Homo sapiens: one gene and its partners. The protein of the gene in region 3 purifies or fractionates together with the protein of the main gene of each other region. This does not show direct contact. Each region holds a gene or a part of one and is shown on either strand. Other genes may lie near its edges.

Region 1 (2,943 bases), on a different chromosome or scaffold from region 3:
CCCAGCTTCCGGCACCCCCGCCCGGGCCACCCGGCTCCCACTCACCCTCCACACTTGCTGTTGGATGTTTTTGCTGAACCCTTGACTTCCACGCCCGCCCATCCTCATCGCTTTCTTCTTGGAGTTTGATTGCTGTGTGTCTGCGGCAGGACACCATGGAATTGCTTAGCTTGTGGGAGGAGGAGTGTCTTGAGAGAAAGAGATTCAGTGTGGATTTCATGATATTTCACTCATCCTCCGGCCATCTCTGTATTACTGTTCACATCTCTACCTCAGCTTGCAGATCTTTTTCTGTTACCTTCTTTTTCCTTGTTTGGTTTGTAGTAGGCAGCTGTAGTGAAATGCCTAGGCAGCCCATTCTCCCAGAGGACAAGGTTTCTGAGCCCCACCTGTCCCTGTCACCACCTCCCCCGAGACCTCAGGACCCACATGGGCGGAGCACATGCCCTCAGCCCAGTTGAGCAGTCCCAGGAGAGCTGAGGGCCCTGTTTTCAGCAGGAGCAGGGCTCCTCCTCCAGGCACATCAGCCCCTCTGCACTCGCCACACACAGCGCACAGACACCCCAACCTAGGGGTTCCAATTTGAAATCTCAGGCTGCTGCCAGGGCCAAAGTGCTTGTCAGAATGAGACCAGAAGTCCTACTTCTGCCGTGGTGGTCAGAGAGATGGGCCCCTCCCCTGCCCTCACTCCCCACTTTGGTCAAGGCCAGTAACCCCCAGCTGCCCTGCACTGTAGTGAGAGGAGGCGGGGCCCAGTCCAGCCTCACTGAGCCCCACCCTCTGGCCAGTGAGTTGAACTAAAGCTTAGCAGTCAGTGGGTGAATTTTTACATTTGAAAAAAAAAAATCATTCTGACCTAAGTGCTTGAAGATCTTTTAATTTTGATTTCTATGAATTTCCTTTTTAGGGGTCCATCATTAGCAGTCCTCACATGCGCCGGAGAGCTACATCAACACGAGAGTGTCCATCTCGCCCACACCAGACTATGCCCAACTCATCTTCCCTCCTGGGCTCCTTATTCGGGAGCAAGAGAGGGAAGCCCCCTCCCCAGGCCCACCTGCCCTCAGCCCCAGCCCTGCCACCCCCCCACCCACCGGTGGTCCTGCCTCACTTGCAGCACTCTGTGGCTGGCCACCACCTGGGGCCCCCAGAGGGGCTGCCGCAGGCCGCCATGCACGGGCATCACACCCAGTACTGCCACATGCAGAACCCTCCCCCGTACCACCATCACCACCACCACCACCCACCCCAGCACATCCAGCACGCACACCAGTACCACCACGGCCCCCATGGGGGCCACCCAGCCTACGGGGCCCATGCCCACGGCCACCCGCCGCTGCCCTCGGCCCACGTGGGGCACACAGTGCACCACCATGGGCAGCCCCCTGCCCCGCCGCCCCCCACCAGCAGCAAGGCCAAACCCAGCGGCATCAGCACAATTGTGTAGACAGCCTGGGTAGGGGTCCCAGGCTCCCTGAAACACCTGCACACCACACAGGGCACGCCCGGGGGTCGCCAGCCGCACACCAAACCCGGGGCACTTCTGTTGCCATCTCTCCCCTCTGCCCCTCACGGCCCAACCGGAGCCCCAGGAGCCCACAGGGCTGGTGTTGTGTGGAACAAAGGCCCAGATTTCATTTCTTGTTGGCACCCTGGGCTCTGCTCACCTCAGTCTGAGGGATGGGTGGGCCTCAGACACCATCAGCCTTGAAACGGTGAGCCAGCCAAGTAGTGTTGAACTGCCTCCCCCACTCCAGCTCTCAGCTCCCTGTGCCCTAATGTACATGCATATGAAAACCCAACCTAGAAAACGAAGAAATGAGATACAAAAACAGACAAAACAAACCCCAAAACTTGCTGCATTATTGCTCTTTTATTGACAATGGGCAAAAAAATAAGTAGACCTGATATGGTTGATGAAAATACGTAAGTAAACTTTATATAAATATATAAATATATAAATATATATATATATATACTGTATAGGTAGTACTTGTGTGTGAAAGGCAGGCGTTTCAGTCCACATTAGCAATACCCACCTTACAAGGAGCTCCACTTACCTAATAGGAAGACAGTACCTTAGCTGGGTGTGTGAGACAATAGACCAAACCCTAAATGCTAGGAACAAATTCAGATACTTCATATTTTCATACAAAGAAGTCCCTCTAGGACTGGCTAAAATCTTTACACAATCATTACTAACTGTGCCAAGTAACATAGCATCTAACTGTTTAAAAAGTCCAGTATTGCTTTGTATAAATCCTTATTTTATTAACAGAATACTATCATAAATAGTATTATAATGCTGTTATTTCAGGTAAGCAAATAGCTAAACTGCAGTACACTCTACAGTAGCAACTCAGGACAGCTGGTTACAAGCTGGTTGTCTTAGGACATTGGTTACACGGATTCTTAGACACTTTAATGGCTGCGATAACTGTGACTCTCCATGATCCATGTTTCTTTTATGCGCATATGATTTGACGCACACTCATTCAGAGTCCTCCGAGAGGGGCACCCATACACGGCAGAAGTGTTCATCTCCAACATGAAAGTGACCAGCTCTCATCCTCGTCTCCCCAACACCATAACGTCCTCATCCCGCCTCCAACCCACACCAGGCCGAAGCCCTCAGAGAGTGTTTTCATCAGGAACCACTCTCGAACCTGAAGGTTGACTTTAGCGTTTAGCAACCCAGGGCGGTGTGTGTGTTTCCCGTTTTGTTTTCTGAGTGGTAGCAGTGATCACCGTAATTCCATGTAGCCATGTGCTAGCAGAACCCCTGTGTCCTCACCGTGGCCCGTGTGACCCCAGCCGACGAGTGCCCGGCGGAGCCCCCGCTGCCTTCCCATGGTCCAGTGAGCTGCCAGGGCATCACATGACTCTCAGCTGTGCTCTTGTCGCTTCTGTGTTGTGGTGACACCATGCGCTCCCCAGGGCCAG
Region 2 (2,271 bases), on a different chromosome or scaffold from region 3:
AACATGGCTGGTGCTGTGCCCGAGGGAACCACACCTTCAGACCGGAAGAGGCGAATGCCACGTGGGCTCAAGGTCATCGGCTGCAACGAGCCCCGTGCCTTCCCCGACCTCTAGCCACAAGGAGCTAGGGAGTCTAATCCTGCTACACAGCTGGAAGGGCAGTGCTGGAGAGCTTCAAGAACATTCTCGCAGGGTGCTGACTGCCAGGAGTGAAGAGTGAGGACAGTACACGGTGGTGTGGACACCCAGCAGTGGCTGAAACTCACTTCTCGGGCTAGTGCCCGGTTACGTTCTAACATCCTCCCAAGGGCACAAAGCTGTCCATGCCAGCCTTGGCCACTCCTGAGGGACAAGCTCCACCTAAGGACAGCCGGGGCCATCCCTTCCTTTCTCTGGGTGGCCAGTGTGGTTATCTCCAGAGCTCCTAGCGTCCTGGGACTGTGTGCAGTCCTGTCTGGGAGGGGCCTGGCCACACTTAAGAAGAGAGTCACTCACATCTGTTTACGGTGGAAACACCCAACTCGATTTATTGAAAAACTATTACAGTTAATTATTCCTTTGTTACACAAGTTTAGAATATTTTAAGATATCCTTTCCTGGGCATTACAGTTAAAACTTATGACATGTCTAGCGGATTTTTTGAAACCGTACAATGTGTCATTTGACATTGTATTTCAAAAGGCCTGATGTCCTCGAAACTTTATCTTGGGTTTTTTGCTTACCATTTTTTTCTTTTTGCCAGCGTTTGTCCAATTATATATATTGAGAGGAAAAAATAAAATTACACCAAAAGAATTTCTGCAAATATAAGAAGTAATTTTATTGCAATATACTGTGGCTAGAGTGGTCTGGGGAGAACGGGACACATTTTGAAGTTCAGTACAAATTATAACAACTTTGAAGGGACCACAGAGGAAGAAAATGACAGGAGAAAAGGACAAATTGGATGGGATGAGAAATGAAAACAGAATCACATGACCTAGACGCAGTCCACGGGGGTCGCGGGACAGTCCTCGGCTATGGCTTTTCTTTTGAAGAGATGAAGGTGACAGTCATTGGCACATGCTGGCATCCTGGGCTCCAGAGACTCTCCAAGCCAGACTTTTCTTTGGCAAGAGCGAGACTTACTTTCCAGGGAAATTTGGAAAATCCACGCTGGCGGTGTTTTGTTCCTCCTGGGTGGCTTGTTTGTGGCTTCCTAAGCTGGAACTGCATTCTGGTGGTGGTGGGGGTCGGGGACAGCACCAGAGCCCCGCAGGCTCACCCCAAGGGCCCAGCCTGCATTTCCCATGGTAGAAGGAAAAGGCGCTGCACCCGGGCAACTTTTCACAGTGAAGAGATCGCCTTTCCTGGCTGCCCCTCGGGTCCTCCTGCCCACAGACGGCAGCCCCCCGACCTCGATGGCCAGGAAAGGGTTCCCCAAAGGGGACCTCACCCGCCCCGAGCTCTGGAGCCGCTGACGCTCGCATCCAGGACATTTGAGATGGGAATCCAAATAGGCTACTTGGAAAAGACGTGCTGCAGGCAGCCCTGGAGAGACTCATGGAGTTCATTGTACATTACTCCATCTACCGAGGCAGCGCATGGCATGACTGAACGGCTTGGAACAAACACAGAAATTAGCACCACAAACATTCAGGAACCAAATATAATCTGCTATGGTCACACCACAGACAATGCAGGAAGAGGCTTTTTATTGCTTGTGTGTGTTTTCAAATCAAGTAGGCACAACCCAGTCCTCATAACAGCCCTCGGGAGTGGACGCACCGGGGCGGGAGAGCGCAGGAGGGAGTGTGCTTGGCTATCCTGCCCAGTGGAAAGGAAAGTGACGTGCATTGATCTTAGAGTCCTTGGCAACAGACTGTGGAGGCAATAACAGGATAAAGAAAGCAGGGAGAACGAGGCATGGCCAGGGTCCCCAGTGCGCCTTCAAGGAGACCTTAAAACAGATAGATAGCACCACAAGAGAGCCACAAGAGAGAAGTGTAAAAAATAAGCACCAATTTTCATTGAGTTATCACCTACAAAAAATGTGGTTTCCCTGCCCTGGACATTCTCCCATCAGGCTCTGCGGGAAGAAAAGCGGAAAAAGGAAGCAAATAAAATTAATCCAAACCTGTGTTTTAGTCTTAAGTGCATGTAGAAAAAAGAAAATTATCAAATTTTTTCCCTATTAAAAAAAAAAAAAGTCTAGAGCGAATCAAAAACTGTCTGAAAAGGGGCACTGGTACCTGCTTTTCAATGGCAGCATAAATTCTTGCTGCCCCGGGG
Region 3 (5,309 bases):
GACCTGTGGAGAAGGAAAAGGGGCTCCAGGAGCCCCCCAGTCCCTGGCCTACCTAGGGACTTCATCTTGTGTTTACTGTCCCCAACTTCCTATTCCTCGTTATTGGTTCCTGAGCCACCGGGGTTAGCAGACCCTGGTCTCTGAAGCATTTAGCCTACTGTGTAGTGGTTTCATTCCAGGCAGAAAGAGCCTTCTCTGAGTTCTTTTGTGTCAGCCATGCCCAGGTTGCTGTTAATGGGGCTGTGGGGAGTCTTCCTTGCTTTCCAGGGAGAGTCACAGCCCCCACTTCCCCTCCATGGTATCTGCTTTCTCATTATTCTCTGAGGAACCACACACATAGTCTTTCCCATCTTGAGCTCACCCTAAATCCTGCATCTCCCTATAGCTGCTTCTTCATATTGGCTTGAAACTATCTTCATGGTCACTTTCCAGCACTCCCTCTACAGCAGATGACCTTTGGTCATAAGACCCACTGAACTGATACTCAGCAAGGTCCCTGCCACTTAACAGCCAAAGCTGGCACTGCAACCTTGGCTCTTGGCCTCCCTTGGTGTCTCTCACACCACTCCCGCTCCCTCTGTTTCTCCTATCTTTAGTTCATTCTCAGGGTTATTCATTGTCTGTTCTTTCTGGGTAGGTGCTCCCTGGAGCTCTGGCCTTAGTCATCTTCTCCATTCTTTCCTCAGAGTTCCTGCAAGCTATTTTCCTCACCCATGGCTTGGTTGCCACCTAAATTTATGTTTTTTATATTCAGCTAATTTTTCCATCCTCTAGACTCATATGGCAAACTGCCCACCAGACATCTTCTTCTCTGTGGTCCACAGGACCTTCCCACTGTCCTCAACAATGCTTCCTGGTGGGTTTCTGGGGCTCCCCCTAAAAAGGCCCCTTCCCACTTGGGAGATGGGGAATCTGAGGCTAAGAGGTGGCTGTGAACCCCAGTCCAGGGCAGGGCTGGGCCATCTGTCTGTGCTCACTGTGTCAGTGGCCCTTTAGGATATGCAGTCTAAATGTCCGATGGAGTTCTGCTTGGTGATGCCCCCTATCCAGTGGCTCAGGCTTTCCTTGAAGTGGGAATCTCTTTCCCTAATCCAGAGGCTCTTTGGAGCCTGACAATTTACTTCCCCTGCTGTAGGAACCAAGTACCAGGCAATGCTGAGTGTGGATGACTGCTTTGGGATGGGCCGCTCGGCCTACAATGAAGGGGACTATTATCATACGGTGTTGTGGATGGAGCAGGTGCTAAAGCAGCTTGATGCCGGGGAGGAGGCCACCACAACCAAGTCACAGGTGCTGGACTACCTCAGCTATGCTGTCTTCCAGTTGGGTGATCTGCACCGTGCCCTGGAGCTCACCCGCCGCCTGCTCTCCCTTGGTAAGGAGATTCTAGGGGAAGGTAAGATGGGAATGGAGAGTGGCAGAGGAACTGCACTGTGCTGGCATCTGCCTGACCCCTCTCCTGGGACTGAGTCAGTTTACCCTGTCACTTGGCCAGTGACTAATGCCTTACTGACTTTAGGACCAGTCCAGCTTCTTACTAGCTCCTTACCCACCTCAATCCTGGCCTTAGGTTTGCGCAGTCGCTGATAGATACGCTCAGGCCTGTGGCACTTGTGGGCCTTTTTAATAAGGACTCTGTTATGGTGTATCTGTCACCATGCAGGACTACACAGGGTGGAACCTTTACTACATCAGGAGCAGCTCAGGAGTCAGGTTGTACTTTAGGATTGTTACAGTGACAAACAGTAGCGGTGCTATTAGAGGCCTGAGGTCTAATAGTAGGACTTCATATGGCATTGATACTTTGTGTGCCTTGTGCTGTTGGACTGAAGAAGGCCAAAAGCACTGTGCCTTTAAAACTCATCTACCTTTTTTTTTTTTTTTTTTTGAGACAGAGTCTCACTCATCCAGCCTGGAGAGCAGTGGCACGATCTCAGCTCACTGTAACCTCCGCCTCCCGGGTTGATGAGATTTTCCTGCCTCAGCCTCCCAGGTGGCTGGGATTACAGAGGCACATGCCCCATGTTGTATTTTCTTTAGTAGAGATGAGGTTTTACCATGTTGGTCAGGCTGGTCTCGAACTCGTGACCTCACGTGATCCACCCGCCTCGGCCTCCCAAAGTGCTGGGATTGCAGGTATGAGCCACCGCACCTGGCCTCTGTTGGTTTTCCAGTTACGACCAGCGTACTCTGGTTAGATGCTGTGGAAGGTAGAATGCAGCATGCAGGTGAGCTGCTGGGAGAGAAACCCTTACAGAATAATTTCTCTAAATGACCTAACAGATGTTTGTGGTTTCCTTTTCCTTCTCATTCCTTGCATTTTCTAGACCCAAGCCACGAACGAGCTGGAGGGAATCTGCGGTACTTTGAGCAGTTATTGGAGGAAGAGAGAGAAAAAACGTTAACAAATCAGACAGAAGCTGAGCTAGCAACCCCAGAAGGCATCTATGAGAGGCCTGTGGACTACCTGCCTGAGAGGGATGTTTACGAGAGCCTCTGTCGTGGGGAGGGTGTCAAACTGGTGAGATGTGTGAGGGGGCTAGGGTGCCAAAGCTGTGGACCTGGACTCTGGCTCTGGGCAGGCAGATTTGGGGAAGGTGTTCTTTATTCTGTAGGTACTTTTCTCAGTATATCCCCCAGTTTTTCATGGCATCTCCTGAGGCTGACATGTGGATATTCTCTGAGGTGTAGGAAAGGAGACTCTCTCCCCTCGTGCCCCAGGTAGAGTGTTGCTCCTCTAAGTTACCAGTGAGCTCGCCTCCTTACCCCAATATGTCCCACTTTTTGCTTCACTCACTGTTGGGAAGAAAACAATGGGTGGACGTACCTCAGGCCCCAAAAGAAGTCATGGTATAAGTGGAGAGTAAGTCTCTGTGGTAAAGACACCAGCGTGTACTAGAGCTTGGTATCGAGCCTTTGAGAGCCCTGGGATCCTAGTGCTTCCTGAGGAGGCCCAGGTGTGACAGGCTCTGAGCCTTTTCCATGCCCCTGTCTGCATGGCTTCTACTGGCTCCTCCACCAAGAAAGGTTTCTCCCCTGTCCCAGCCCTTCAGACCTACTCAAGTCTTCACGAAAAGGGTCAGGAATTACTTTCTGCCATGGGACTTGAGGATGTGAGGTGATTTTGGGAGAGAAGAAAAATTGCATGATTTGTGGGGTGTTATTTCATGCCAGTTAAGCTGAAGGGGCTCTCCTCTCCTCTCCCCTCCCCCCATTCCCCCCTCTCCTCCCCTCCCCCCCTCCCCTCCCCCTCCCCTCCCCCTCCCCTCCCCCTTCTCCTCCTCTCTCCTCCCCTCCCTCCCTCCCTTCCTTTCTTCCTTCCTTTTTCTTCTCTTTTTCCTGTTTCCTCTTTTTCCTTTTCTTTTCTTTCTTTCGTCTCACCCTGTCGCCCAGGCTGGTGTGCAGTGGTATAATCATAGCTCACTGCAGCTTTGACCTCCCAGCCTTGAGCAATCCTCCTGCCTCAGTCTCCTGAGTAGCTGGGACTACAGGTATGCACCATCATGCCTGGCTAATTTTTTAGAGACAGGTCTATGTCATCTAGGCTGGTCCCAAACTCCTGGTCTCAAGCTATCCTTTGGCCCCCCAGAGTTCTCGGATTACAGGCATGAGCCACTGTGCATGCCCACCTGCTGGGACTTTTGTTTTCTTCTGTGGTGTGGTGGGAGGGAGCAGCTGCTGGCCATGAGGTGAGTCCAGTGTCTGCAGACAGCCAGACTGGGACCGAGGATTAGGACTCACTCAGCTCAGGGCCTGTTACTCTGTGCTTTCCAGACACCCCGTAGACAGAAGAGGCTTTTCTGTAGGTACCACCATGGCAACAGGGCCCCACAGCTGCTCATTGCCCCCTTCAAAGAGGAGGACGAGTGGGACAGCCCGCACATCGTCAGGTACTACGATGTCATGTCTGATGAGGAAATCGAGAGGATCAAGGAGATCGCAAAACCTAAAGTAGGTGTCACTGTAGGTCCTTCTCGGGTCACTGAAGGGGGAAGGTCCTTTTTCTCATCCCTAGCACTATGGGTGGTTGGTTTGCCCATCTAGCCACCCTTTATCCATATCTAGCATGGGCCTACCGTGGGGATACAGAGATGCTTCAGACTCAGCCTGACCTTGTGAGTTCATGGTCCAGTGGAAGAAGAACAGGGTAACCAATGTGGACAGCCAAGTGCTATCATAGAAGGTCACGCTGGGAACAGGGCAGGTCTACACTGGTGTGTCAGTTCACCTGGTTGGGAGACTGGTGCGTGGGTGAGTTTTTTGGAAATGTTCCATAGGATGCTATGAAGCTGGGTCCTGTGGAGCTCCTGATTAGGACTGTAAATGAGGTGAATGACTTAGAGGAGAATGTATATCTTTATAATATTGGGTCTTCTCATCCAAGGGCATGACAGGTCTCTCCATATCTTTTTAAGTTTTCTTCATATAAGCCTTGAACATTTCTTAAGTTTATTCCTTGGTAGTTTCTTTGTTACTGTTAATTTACTTTATTTCTTCATTATTATTTTTAACTGGTTACATTATTTTATTAGTTTACTATTATATGCCAAACTATTGATTTTACAAATACATTTCATAGTAAGAGCTAATGTTTACTGAATTCTTAACTGTGGCAGGAACTTCTAAGTGCTTAACATATATATTAAGTGTTATGTCACAGTTATGAACAGCTGCTCATAATGATGTCACTGTCTCTGTTTTACCTATGAAAAAGCAAACTCATACAGATTGCAGCTAGTGGTTGAATTTACTTATTTCTTTTTTGGTTTTTAGCTGATTTCTCTTTGGTTGCCTGGATAGCATTAACACCTGGAAATAAGGAAAATTTTATTTTCTCCTGATACTTGTAGTTCCTTTGTTTTTATAACCTTATTGAATTGCCCAGAACTTCTAGAGCATAATTACGTAGAATAGGCATCCTTGTCTCATTCCTGAATTTCCTGGAAATTCCTATGGTATTTTACTGCTAAGAATGCAGTTGGCTGTTGGTTTTGTATATATGCCATGTTTTAAAATTATTCTTCTGTTTCTAGTTCATAAAAGATTTGTTCCCCATTTGACATCTTTCAAAGAGACCTATTTGCTGCCATATCCCATCACTGATGATTGGGAGGGAGGATTTAGCTCGATTCTCTATTGCTCTGCTCCTAATAGAATTGTAGGGGCCGAGGTGACCAGGAGGCCCGACACTCATGGAGAGACCTGAAATAGGTTCCTATCCTGGCCCCTGGACCTCATCTTGGAACAGCTTTGGCTTGAGGTACTAGGACATCTAGGGCTTTGAGTCAGTGGTTGGCATCATCGATGTG
Region 4 (3,500 bases), on a different chromosome or scaffold from region 3:
CTGAGGAGATCAATGGGAACACAGCTACCAACTTGCTTAGGGAGCAGGGCCGGCATCTGTGGGAAGCTTCATCTAAGGAAACATTTTTCTTTTTTTTTTTTTTTGAGACGGAGTCTCGCTCTGTCACCCCGGCTGGAGTGCAGTGGCGCAATCTGGGCTCACCGCAAGCTCCGCCTCCTGGGTTCACCCCATTCTCCTGCCTCAGCTTCCCGAGTAACTGGGACTACAGGCGCCCGCCACCACGCCTGGCTAATTTTTTGTATTTTTAGTAGAGACGGGGTTTCACGGTGTTAGCCAGGATGGTCTCAATTTCCTGACCTCATGATCCGCCCGCCTCAGCCTCCCGAAGTGCTGGGATTACAGGCGTGAGCCACTGCCCACCGCGCCCGGCCTTTTTTTTTTTTTTTCAAGACAGAGCCTTGCTCTGTTGCCCAGGCTGGAGTGCATTGGCACGATCTCGGCTCACTGCAACCTCTGCCTTCCAAGTTCAAGTGATTATCCTGCCTCAGCCTCCCAAGTAGCTGGGATTACAGGCACCTGCCACCACGCCCAGCTAATTTTTGTATTTTTAGTAGAGACGGCGTTTCACCATGTTGGCCAGGCTGGTCTCGAACTCCCGACTTCAGGTGGTCTGCCCGTCTCGACCTCCCAAAGTGCTGGGATTACAGGCATGAGCCACTGCACCCGGCCTTATATGTTATTAGTTTTAATCCTCACTGACAATAGTTATGAAGGAGTCCTCATATAGATGAGGACAGTAAAGTAAAAAAAGATGAAGCAAAAAAAAGAGGTAATTTGAGATCATTCAGCTGGTCAGTCAGGGAGCCTGGACTTGGACCCAGTAGCCATCATCAGAGCCTGTCCTTACCCATTATACCCTCCTGCCTTGTTGAAGGCAATATGAGGGAATAGGTGTTACGCAATAAATTATCTGAGGCTCACACTATTTTCCGCCTCATTCCTTCCCATCCAGCTTGCTAGGATCCAGGCAAGAGCCCCAGCTGAGGCCCTGTCTTCCCCATTACCCCTCCAACTCCACCAACTCCACCAACTCCTAGGCTACATGACAAGCCACCCATCTCTTCCCATACCAGCAGGAGACGGCTGCCTGGTCACTGCTAATCTATTTCCCAGCCAACTGCAAACTCCTTTACCAATTCCAGTAGTCAACAAAACCAGTTACTCACTCTAGTGAGTGCTTACTACTCACTAACAGTGGTGCACCCTGTGTCCTCGCAATTCTGAGAGGCAGAGATTCTTATCCCCATTATACAAGTGTGGCAACCAAGGCCCAACCTGCAAAGTGATCCACACAGAGTCATAGAACTAGTATGTGGCAGAGTTGGGCTTTTTTTTTTTTTTTCCTGAGATGGAGTCTCACTCTGTTGCCAGGCTGGAGTGCAGTGGTGCGATCTCGGCTCACTGCAACCTCTGCCTCCCAGGTTCAAGCAATTCTCCTGCCTCAGCCTCCAGAGTAGCTGGGACAACAGGCAGGCACCACCACACCCAGCTAATTTTTGTATTTTTAGTAGAGACGGGGTTTCACCATGTTGGCCAGGCTGGTCTCCATCTCTTGACCTCGTGATCCGCCCTCCTCAGCCTCCCAAAGTGCTGGGATTACAGGCGTGAGCCACCGCACCCAGCCTAGAGTTGGGATTTGAACTCAGGACTGTCTGAAGCCAAAGCCTGGGTGTGTAAGTATTAAGCTTGAAGGTTGAGGGTGAGGTCTGTTTATTGCCATTCTCCAAGCACCTGTGCGTGCTGCAGGTGTTGCAAGGAAAACTGGTAGGCGGGTGTTTGTCTACACCTAGGCAAATCACACCCACCAGGCAAGACAGTCAGTGAGTCCCCAGCAAGGTCCTGACTCGCTATGTGAAAGGAGGCTGGGAGGAGGTAGAGGAGTGAGGCTTGGAAGAACCTGCACCCAGGCATCAGATGCAGTGGAGCAGAAAGGTCACAGGCTTCAGAGTCTGACAGGCCTGACTGAGGACCTCGGCTCCCGGCGAACCTCGGGCAAGCCCTGAGCCTGTGTAACCACAGTTCCCTCATGGAGTTGTTGGCACACATGGGGAGTTGGTACAGACGGGTACATCATCGGTGGCACCTGGCAGGGGCTTGGTAAGCAGCACCTGCCCCGAAGAATATATCCACGTCTCCTCATCTCTGCCAGGAGGAAATGCTTCAGCCAGGCCTTACCCCCACTGCTCTGCAACATTGCACTTCTCAAGGACACCCGTGACCTCCATGCTGCTAAATCCAGCAGGCAGTTTTCCATCCCTCATCTTCCTTGGCCACTATGCAGCTGCATCTGCCACAGTTGATTTCTGACTGCTCCTTGAAACACTGTCTTCACCTGGCTTTGAAGACAGCACATTCTCCTAGTTTTCCTTCTACCTTGCTGACTGTCATTTCTCAGTCATCTTTGCTGATCCTGCCTGAACTTCCCAACCTCTCAGCGCTGGAGTGCCCTAGGGCTGAGTGGAGGACCTCATTTATTTTCTATCCACACGCACTCCCTTGGTGACCTCATCCAGACTCACAGATTTAAATACCATCACTGCTGACGACAACCAAATTTGTGTCTCCAGCCCAGGCCTCTCCCTTGAGGTCTAGTTTCACTCATGCAACTCCCAGCTGCTTGACACCCCTGTGTGTCTCAAAGATGCCCCCAATTTAACACATCCCAAACTGAGCTGCTGATCTTCCCCCAAAAGCCTGCTTCTCCCCATTTTCCCCATCTCAGTTAATGACAACTACATCACACCTCATGTCTAATCTCTCAGCAAATCCTTCTGCCTTTATCTTCAAAACAGATCTCAAATCTAATCATTTCTCACTGTCTCCACTTCTATCACTTGGATCAGAGCTACTATCAGCTCTGATAAAAGACTCCCTGCTCCAGTCTTTGTTCCCCCTGGGTCTTTTCTCAACACAGTAGCCAGAGTGATTCTGTTTAAAAATAAGTCAGATTGGCCGGGTGCGGTGGCTCACGCCTGTAATCCCAGCACTTTGGGAGGCCAAGGCAGGCAGATCACGAGGTCAGGAGATCGAGACCATCCTGGCCAACACGGTGAAACCCCGTCTGTACTAAAAACACAAAAAATTAGCCAGGCATGGTGGCAGGCGCCTGTAGTCCCAGGTACACAGGAGGCTGAGGCAGGAGAATTGCTTGAACCAGGGAGGTGGAGCTTGCAGTAAGCCAAGATAGCGCCACTGCACTCCAGCCTGGGTGACAGAAGGAGACTCTGTCTCAAAAAAAAAAAAAAAAAAGGTCAGATCACGTCACTCCTCTGACAAAATCCTGCAATGATTCCTCATTTGAGGGGAAGAAAAAGCCAAAGTCATCATGATAGCCTATTAAGGACTCCCCAGGATCCTGACCTCTTCGACCTTGTCTCCTCTTCTCCCCCTGCTCAGTTTTTCAGCCACTGTCCCTTAAGGGTGTTGGGGAGATTTCTGCCTCAGGGCTTTGTACTGAGGAAACAATATTTCCTCAGTGG

The links. Proteins that work in one complex are often made in the same cells at the same time.
Region 1: the proteins of P4HA2 (region 3) and IQSEC1 purify together in Homo sapiens (co-immunoprecipitation; 2 studies listed by BioGRID and IntAct, with this or other methods). This does not show direct contact.
Region 2: the proteins of P4HA2 (region 3) and COL5A1 purify together in Homo sapiens (co-immunoprecipitation; one large-scale study listed by IntAct). This does not show direct contact.
Region 4: the proteins of P4HA2 (region 3) and MAP7D1 purify together in Homo sapiens (affinity purification with mass spectrometry; 2 studies listed by BioGRID and IntAct, with this or other methods). This does not show direct contact.

Annotation. Positions count from the first base shown.
Region 1 is NC_000003.12:12,899,487-12,902,429, reverse strand, and holds part of IQSEC1 (IQ motif and SEC7 domain-containing protein 1), read left to right. Parts: intron 1-907; coding exon 908-1,447; 3' UTR 1,448-2,943. UniProt on the Homo sapiens protein: Guanine nucleotide exchange factor for ARF1 and ARF6. Guanine nucleotide exchange factor activity is enhanced by lipid binding. Accelerates GTP binding by ARFs of all three classes.
Region 2 is NC_000009.12:134,843,073-134,845,343, reverse strand, and holds the end of COL5A1 (collagen alpha-1(V) chain isoform 1 preproprotein), read right to left. Parts: 3' UTR 501-2,271; downstream 1-500. UniProt on the Homo sapiens protein: Type V collagen is a member of group I collagen (fibrillar forming collagen). It is a minor connective tissue component of nearly ubiquitous distribution. Type V collagen binds to DNA, heparan sulfate, thrombospondin, heparin, and insulin.
Region 3 is NC_000005.10:132,206,350-132,211,658, reverse strand, and holds part of P4HA2 (prolyl 4-hydroxylase subunit alpha-2 isoform 2 precursor), read left to right. Parts: intron 1-1,135; coding exon 1,136-1,375; intron 1,376-2,327; coding exon 2,328-2,521; intron 2,522-3,774; coding exon 3,775-3,951; intron 3,952-5,309. UniProt on the Homo sapiens protein: Catalyzes the post-translational formation of 4-hydroxyproline in -Xaa-Pro-Gly- sequences in collagens and other proteins.
Region 4 is NC_000001.11:36,166,160-36,169,659, reverse strand, and holds part of MAP7D1 (MAP7 domain-containing protein 1), read right to left. Parts: intron 1-3,500. UniProt on the Homo sapiens protein: Microtubule-stabilizing protein involved in the control of cell motility and neurite outgrowth. Facilitate microtubule stabilization through the maintenance of acetylated stable microtubules.